Homo sapiens: one gene and its partner. The protein of the gene in region 1 purifies or fractionates together with the protein of each later gene. This does not show direct contact. Each region holds a gene or a part of one and is shown in the gene's direction. Other genes may lie near its edges. The genes, in order: PCDHA6 and SPSB4.

Region 1 (3,818 bases):
AGACGCTCCACTCTCTTTCACTCTTTGGATGCACAACAATGGCCACACATCGAGATTGAAATGAAGGGATAAAAACATTCCTATAAATTCGAAGGCAAGTTTTGCTGACTAGAAAAACAAGCCAATAATTTGAAATGGTGTGCCCGAATGGATACGACCCAGGGGGCCGACATCTACTGCTGTTTATTATAATTCTAGCAGCTTGGGAGGCAGGGAGAGGCCAGCTCCACTACTCGGTCCCCGAGGAGGCTAAACATGGCAACTTCGTGGGCCGCATCGCGCAGGACCTGGGGCTGGAGCTGGCGGAGCTGGTGCCGCGCCTGTTCCGGGCGGTGTGCAAATTCCGTGGGGATCTTCTGGAGGTAAATCTGCAGAATGGCATTTTGTTTGTGAATTCTCGGATCGACCGCGAGGAGCTGTGCGGGCGGAGCGCGGAGTGCAGCATCCACCTGGAGGTGATCGTGGAAAGGCCGCTGCAGGTTTTCCATGTGGACGTGGAGGTGAAGGACATTAACGACAACCCTCCGGTGTTCCCAGCGACACAAAGGAATCTGTTCATCGCGGAATCCAGGCCGCTTGACTCTCGGTTTCCACTAGAGGGCGCGTCCGATGCAGATATCGGGGAGAACGCCCTGCTCACTTACAGACTGAGCCCCAATGAGTATTTCTTCCTGGACGTGCCAACCAGCAACCAGCAGGTAAAACCTCTTGGACTTGTATTACGGAAACTTTTAGACAGAGAAGAAACTCCGGAGCTTCATTTATTGCTCACGGCCACCGATGGAGGCAAACCCGAGCTGACTGGCACCGTTCAATTACTCATCACGGTACTGGACAACAATGACAATGCCCCAGTGTTCGACAGAACCCTGTATACGGTGAAATTACCAGAAAACGTTTCTATCGGAACGCTGGTGATTCACCCCAATGCCTCAGATTTAGACGAAGGCTTGAATGGGGATATTATTTACTCCTTCTCCAGTGATGTTTCTCCAGATATAAAATCCAAGTTCCACATGGACCCCTTAAGTGGGGCAATCACAGTGATAGGACATATGGATTTTGAAGAAAGTAGAGCACACAAGATCCCAGTCGAGGCTGTCGATAAAGGCTTCCCACCCCTGGCTGGTCATTGTACAGTTCTTGTGGAAGTTGTGGATGTAAATGACAATGCTCCACAGTTGACTCTCACTTCCCTGTCTCTCCCTATTCCAGAGGACGCCCAACCAGGTACCGTCATCACATTGATTAGCGTGTTTGACCGAGATTTTGGAGTCAACGGACAGGTTACCTGCTCCCTGACGCCCCGCGTTCCCTTCAAGTTGGTGTCCACCTTCAAGAATTACTATTCATTGGTGCTGGACAGCGCTCTGGACCGCGAGAGTGTGTCCGCCTATGAGCTGGTGGTTACCGCGCGGGACGGGGGCTCGCCTTCTCTGTGGGCCACTGCTAGCGTGTCCGTGGAGGTGGCCGACGTGAACGACAACGCCCCGGCGTTCGCGCAGCCCGAGTATACGGTGTTCGTGAAGGAGAACAACCCGCCGGGCTGCCACATCTTCACTGTGTCGGCGGGGGACGCGGACGCGCAGAAGAACGCGCTGGTGTCCTACTCGCTGGTGGAGCTGCGGGTGGGCGAGCGCGCGCTGTCGAGCTACGTGTCAGTGCACGCGGAGAGCGGCAAGGTGTACGCGCTGCAGCCGTTGGACCACGAGGAGCTGGAGCTGTTGCAGTTCCAGGTGAGCGCGCGCGATGCGGGCGTGCCGCCTCTGGGCAGCAACGTGACGCTGCAGGTGTTCGTGCTGGACGAGAACGACAACGCGCCGGCACTGCTGGCGCCTCGGGTGGGTGGCACTGGTGGCGCAGTGAGAGAGCTTGTGCCGCGGTCTGTGGGCGCGGGCCATGTGGTGGCGAAGGTACGTGCAGTTGACGCTGACTCAGGCTACAACGCGTGGCTTTCGTATGAGTTGCAACCGGTGGCGGCCGGTGCGAGCATCCCGTTCCGCGTGGGGCTGTACACTGGTGAGATCAGCACGACACGAGCCCTAGATGAGACGGACGCACCGCGCCACCGCCTTCTGGTGCTTGTGAAGGACCACGGGGAGCCCTCGCTGACAGCCACAGCCACCGTGCTGGTGTCGCTGGTGGAAAGCGGCCAGGCACCAAAGGCGTCGTCGCGGGCATCGTTGGGCATTGCAGGCCCAGAGACCGAGCTGGTGGATGTCAACGTGTACCTGATCATCGCCATCTGCGCGGTGTCCAGTCTGTTGGTGCTTACCCTGCTGCTGTACACGGCGTTGCGGTGCTCAGCGCCGTCCTCTGAGGGCGCATGTAGTTTGGTAAAGCCCACTCTGGTGTGCTCCAGCGCGGTGGGGAGCTGGTCATTCTCCCAGCAGAGGCGGCAGAGGGTGTGCTCTGGGGAGGGCCCACCCAAGACAGACCTCATGGCCTTCAGTCCCAGCCTTCCTCAGGGTCCATCCTCTACAGACAATGTGAGTCATAAATAATCTTGTTTCCAACAATTTTAAAACAATTAGTTCAATTGGTCTCCTTAAATTTTCTTTCATAATTTCTTTTTTAGTTGATAGCTTTATGTATAATTATTATTTTTTAATGTTATGCTGTATTTGCACTAATTATTTGGAAGTACGTTTAATATACACTTTTGTTTTGGGATGCGTAATACTATAGATCAAAATCTATGGTTTATGTTGGCTACTCTCCATTTTTGGAGGAGGACTTTGCTAACTGGAGCAATGGATTCACCTTTCTTCTATAGTGTATTTACAAAATCAAATATTTACATTTCCATATTTTGATAATCAATACCTATAAATGTTATAGTAAACAAATTTAATATATATGTTACCTAATATTTTATTCTATGTATTGTCCTCATTTTATAAAATATAGCTGTGTCAAAATCATCTGTTCAATTTTGCCTTTTTATCTTTAGTCTAGAACTTGAATTTTAAGCATTTCTTTTACATCTATTTATCTTCTTTTTATCATATTTGTGTAGCACTGACTTCTTTTTAACTTACTTTGTTGAGATGTATTTGCCATGTTCATGAAGAATTAATATGAACAATTTAAAATAGTTTAAATGGCAGTTTAATAGTATTTTTTATTTTGTTCCTTGTTTGTATAAGAAATATATTCACATTCAAAATTTCAAAGAGTGAAATCTAGTACGTAGTAAAAAATCTCCTTGCCTCCTCAAACCCCAAACCATTTACTTTACCTTTCTGAATTTCTGAAGCAGTTTACTTTTTTTGTATATTCCCAAGATTATTATTGCCAAATTATATAAATATATTTACAATCACCAAATTGTAAATCGCCAATATATATATTTTATAATTTGCCCCTTCCTTCCTTCCTTCCTTTCTTTCTTTCTTTCTTCCTTTTTCTTTCATTCTTTTTCTTTTTTCTTTCTTCTTTCAAGACACGCTCTCACTCCATCACCCAGGCTGCTGAAATGCAGTGGTGGGATTATAGCCCACTGCAACCTGAAAGTCCTGGGCTCACAGGATCCTCCCATCTCAGCCTCTGGAGTAGCTGGGAATACAGTTTGCATGTCATTGTGCCTGGCTAATTTTATTTTATTTTTGTAGAGACAGGGTGGAGTCTTGTTTCCCAGGCTGGTCTTGAACTCCTGGCTTCAAGCGATCCTCCTACCTTGGCCTCCCAAAGTATTGGGATTACAGACACGAACAACCACACCCAGCCTGCCTTTCATCTTTCCTTTTTTTTAAAAAAAGAAGTGATTACAGTAGAAACCTACCTTTCTGCACTTTTTGGTTTTCCACTTTAAGTTA
Region 2 (3,818 bases), on another chromosome or scaffold:
TGATTAGATCAACTGTGTACTTTTACAAGTGCAGTAGTATATATTTGAAAGTAATATGCAGTCTATAAAGGAATTCCAGTGGTATCTAACTGGATTTCTTTTTACAGTCTTTGTCATTATTCAGATCTCTCGTGGAGTCTGACCCCTTTGGTGTAGGCTGTCTCCCTAAGGGAAAGTGGTTGAGTCTTATGCTTTTCAGCAGCCTGAGATCCCCAGGGCAGGCATCATTACTGCTGGCTAGATGAAAGAAGGAGACTTGCCCCCACCTCTGGCTCCAGCAAGTCCAAAGCCAGAGGCCACACAGAGAGAAGGGCATTTCACGCAGTCACTACCAATCCCCACAGCAGTCATGTCTTCTTGCAGACCCCGTGCCTATTGAGCTCAGCTAGACAGGCCTCTGTGGCTGTGATTTTGGGTCCCAGGCCTCTGAAGACTGTGCATCATATTTTTCAAACTAATGAGGTTCCTTAAACAGTGTGGCATTGCCACTTCATGTCTCCTCATTTCCCTGTCGGGTAGGAACATCTGCTAGGGTCCTGGGAAAGGCAATTAGCAAATTAGAGTTTTTGTTTTCTTGCTCAGCCATGATTGAAGCCCCAGAGCAGATCCTTCTGGATAATGTCATTAAGCATCCCCATCCAAGCATGACGTAGGAAATTAAGTTTGGTTTTGGGGAAAAGTGACGGAGGCATCCTTTGGCGTTCTTCAGGATGCTGGCTGCTTACTGGGTTGAGAGATGATGGTATTCCTGTCAGGAAGATGGATCCTGTTGTATGTCCCATGTGCCTGGCCCAGTGCTGCATGCTGTAGTGGAGATGAGGAGAGGAGAAATGTGCTAAGTGCCCACTCCCTCTGGCTGGAGAGAGAAGGCAGGGATGAGCCCGACTTGGCCACTGCTGTGTCCCTTGCTCTCAGCTGCACAGTGCCTGGCACTGTGTTCACTAAGCATTTTTTGAACGAATAAATGAGGGTTGGAAGCAGGGAAGGATGCAAAGCAGTAGCTAATAAAGGAGTAGACTGGATACAGCCAAGAGTCAGCTGCTCAGGAGTGAGAGTCCAACTATGATAGTGGCATTACTGGGCTTCATGTCCCCATATCCTGACTTTAGCCCTGGCCCTTTCTCTGCTTCATCCTCTGAAAAACAGCAGAGCATGAGCCCTCCCTGAAGCCCAGCACAACCTCTCCACAGTCCATATGTGTGTTCTGCCCCATGTTCAAAGTACCAGGCTTGTGTCTTGCATGGAGGGAGTAGTGCAGTGGCTGGGGGCACAGAAGTGCTGGTGAAAGTTTCCTGCCATCAGAGGAATGCCCTCAAGGTAGAAAAAAGCAGATCAGTAAGGCCTGAAAGATGTCCCCCTGGCTGGCTCAAGGGTGGACAGAGGTACAGGGCAGGCCCCAGGAGGCCTACTGGATCAGGGCAGGCTTCCTAGAGGAGGTGGAGCTCACCCTCATGGACTAATTATCTCTCAAAGGCTCCACCTCCAAATACTATCACACTGGGGCTTTGTGTTAGGCCATTTTTGCATTGCTATAAAGAAATACCTAAGACTGAGTAATTTATAATGAAAAGAAGTTTAGTTGGCTCACGGTTCTGCAGGCTTTACAGGAAGCACGGTGCTGGCATCTGCTTGGCTTCTAGAGAGGCCTCAGGAAGCTTACAGTCATGGCAGAAGGTGAAGGAGGAGAAGGCATGTCACATGGTGAAAACAAGAGCAAGAGGCGGGGGTGGGGAGGTGTCACACACTTTTAAATGAGCAGATATCTCTCCAGAACTCAGTCACTATCCCTAAGACAGCACCAAGCCATGACAGACTCACCCCCATGACCCAGACAGCTCCCACCAGGCCTCACCTCCAGCACTGAGGATTACAACTCAACATGAGATTTGAGCAGGGACAAATATCCAACCTATATTAGGCTTCAACATGTGAATTTGGGGAGGACACAATCAGTTCATAGCCAGGCACATTCAAGTGGTGAAATGGCAATGTTGGAACACATCCACAATTTAAAAGAGCACTCACCACTTACTGGAAGCCCTGTGATGTGCCAGACTTTACAGGTGTCTGCTCTGATACTTGCAAAAGCAGGTGAGGTTAGCACATAGTTAGCAGCACTTCCAACCAGTCTCAGAGAGATTAAGTTCTGGCCTAGGGTCCAACAGACAGGTGGGGATTCACATCTAGGTCTCCTGTCCTTCATTAGATTGCCCAGCTGCTAGTTTCCCTTAACGGCTTATCATTCATGGACATGAGCACTCTGCTGTGCGCCCTGTACTGGGGGAGCAGCAAAGGGGCTGTCTATTTACTTGCCCACCTTGTCACACCACAGTGTGAGCACTCTTCAGGATCTCTGCCTGCCTCTAGTAGGGACAGAGACTTTGAGACTATGATTGCAAAGGAGAGCACTGGGCCCTCAATGACCCAGTATGGGCCAAGCCAAGTACTAGTAAGAGGTCTTCCCTGGGGCTGCTGTTTGGCTGTTGCTTTCAAACATGTTTAAGTGTCTTTTCAGCAACAGCAACTCCACAGTTGGCATGGTTGTGTGCAAGGATAAAGCAGTTTCCCTTAGAAATTTTCTGTGTGGGCCACACAGAGCTGGTTACAGTCATTGCTGTGGAGAGGGCATTATTCTAAACAACATGGAGGAAGAAGTAAGAGCACAGGCTTGTCATATGGTAACTCTGGGGTTGATCCCAGTCCTGCCACTTCCTGGCTGTGTGACCCCAGGTTATGCAAGTTATGCAACCTCTCTGAGCCCGGGCTGCTATTGCAAAGAGTGCTGCGTATGTATGCAGTATGTATGCATGTGCTGTGTACATAGGTAGTTTTGTGCATTTGAGAACATATCTGAATAAATGCTGGAAGTAGAATTGCTAGGTCAAAGGGTCTGTATATTTGCAATTCTGAAAGATGGTGTTAATTTGCCATTTGCCGAGGCTAAACCAGTTTATATCCACTTTAGCAATGTATGAGTCTGTCTTCTGTTCCACACATTCTCCAAGCATGCGTTATCCATTTTTTTGACCTTTAATAAGCTGATAGACAAAAATGGCATTTCAATGGAGTTCTAACTCATTTCTTTTTCAGTATACATTGAGTATCTTTTCAAAGGAACCATTTGTTTTTGTGTAAACTGTTGATATCTTTTCATATTTTGTACTTGTATTCATTTGTAGGAGTTTGACATATATTTGTTGGTAATTTGTGTTGCAAATTTTTTCTTATGTTAAAACAAGTCTAACTTCTTTTACAAGTGCTTTCAGCTACACCGTTTTGTTATTTCCCATTTTCATTTCTTGTTTTACATATTTCTGTCTTCTCCCCCATTAAATGATTATATGGTTTATGTTTTATGTGTTTTTAAAAATTTAGTTACTTATGCATTTAAAGTATATTTAGTGATATGTGAAAATGCAAATTACATAATTTTTAGGTGAAATAATCTAAATAAAGGCCCATTATACCAATTTTTAAAAAGAAAATTCATTATAATTTATAGACCAAAAAAAAAGAGAGAATAAAGCAAAATTCCTCCAAAAGCTGACAATGTTTATATCTGGTTAATGAGATAGGAGAAAGAGGTGAATTCTAGTTTTTGTCCTTTTTTTGTATTCTCTAAAATTTAGACATTTATTTAACCTTTTCTAATTAATGAGCTTTATTTCTTCAGAATAGTTTTAGATTTAAAGAAAAACTAAACAGATAGTACAGAGAGGTCCCATATGCTCACTCCATTTATCACCCTAGTTTCCCCAATTATTAGCATCTTACATTAGTATGGCACATTTATCACAACTAATGAACCAGTATTGATA

What was found.
Region 2: the proteins of PCDHA6 (region 1) and SPSB4 purify together in Homo sapiens (co-immunoprecipitation; one large-scale study listed by IntAct). This does not show direct contact.

The regions. Positions count from the first base shown.
Region 1 is NC_000005.10:140,834,250-140,838,067, forward strand, and holds part of PCDHA6 (protocadherin alpha-6 isoform 1 precursor), read left to right. Parts: intron 1-19; exon of another isoform or gene 20-134; coding exon of another isoform or gene 135-2,504; exon of another isoform or gene 2,505-2,924; intron 2,925-3,818. Other genes in the region: PCDHA7 (protocadherin alpha-7 isoform 1 precursor), read left to right, coding at 135-2,489. UniProt on the Homo sapiens protein: Potential calcium-dependent cell-adhesion protein. May be involved in the establishment and maintenance of specific neuronal connections in the brain.
Region 2 is NC_000003.12:141,057,776-141,061,593, forward strand, and holds part of SPSB4 (SPRY domain-containing SOCS box protein 4), read left to right. Parts: intron 1-3,818. UniProt on the Homo sapiens protein: Substrate recognition component of a SCF-like ECS (Elongin BC-CUL2/5-SOCS-box protein) E3 ubiquitin-protein ligase complex which mediates the ubiquitination and subsequent proteasomal degradation of target proteins.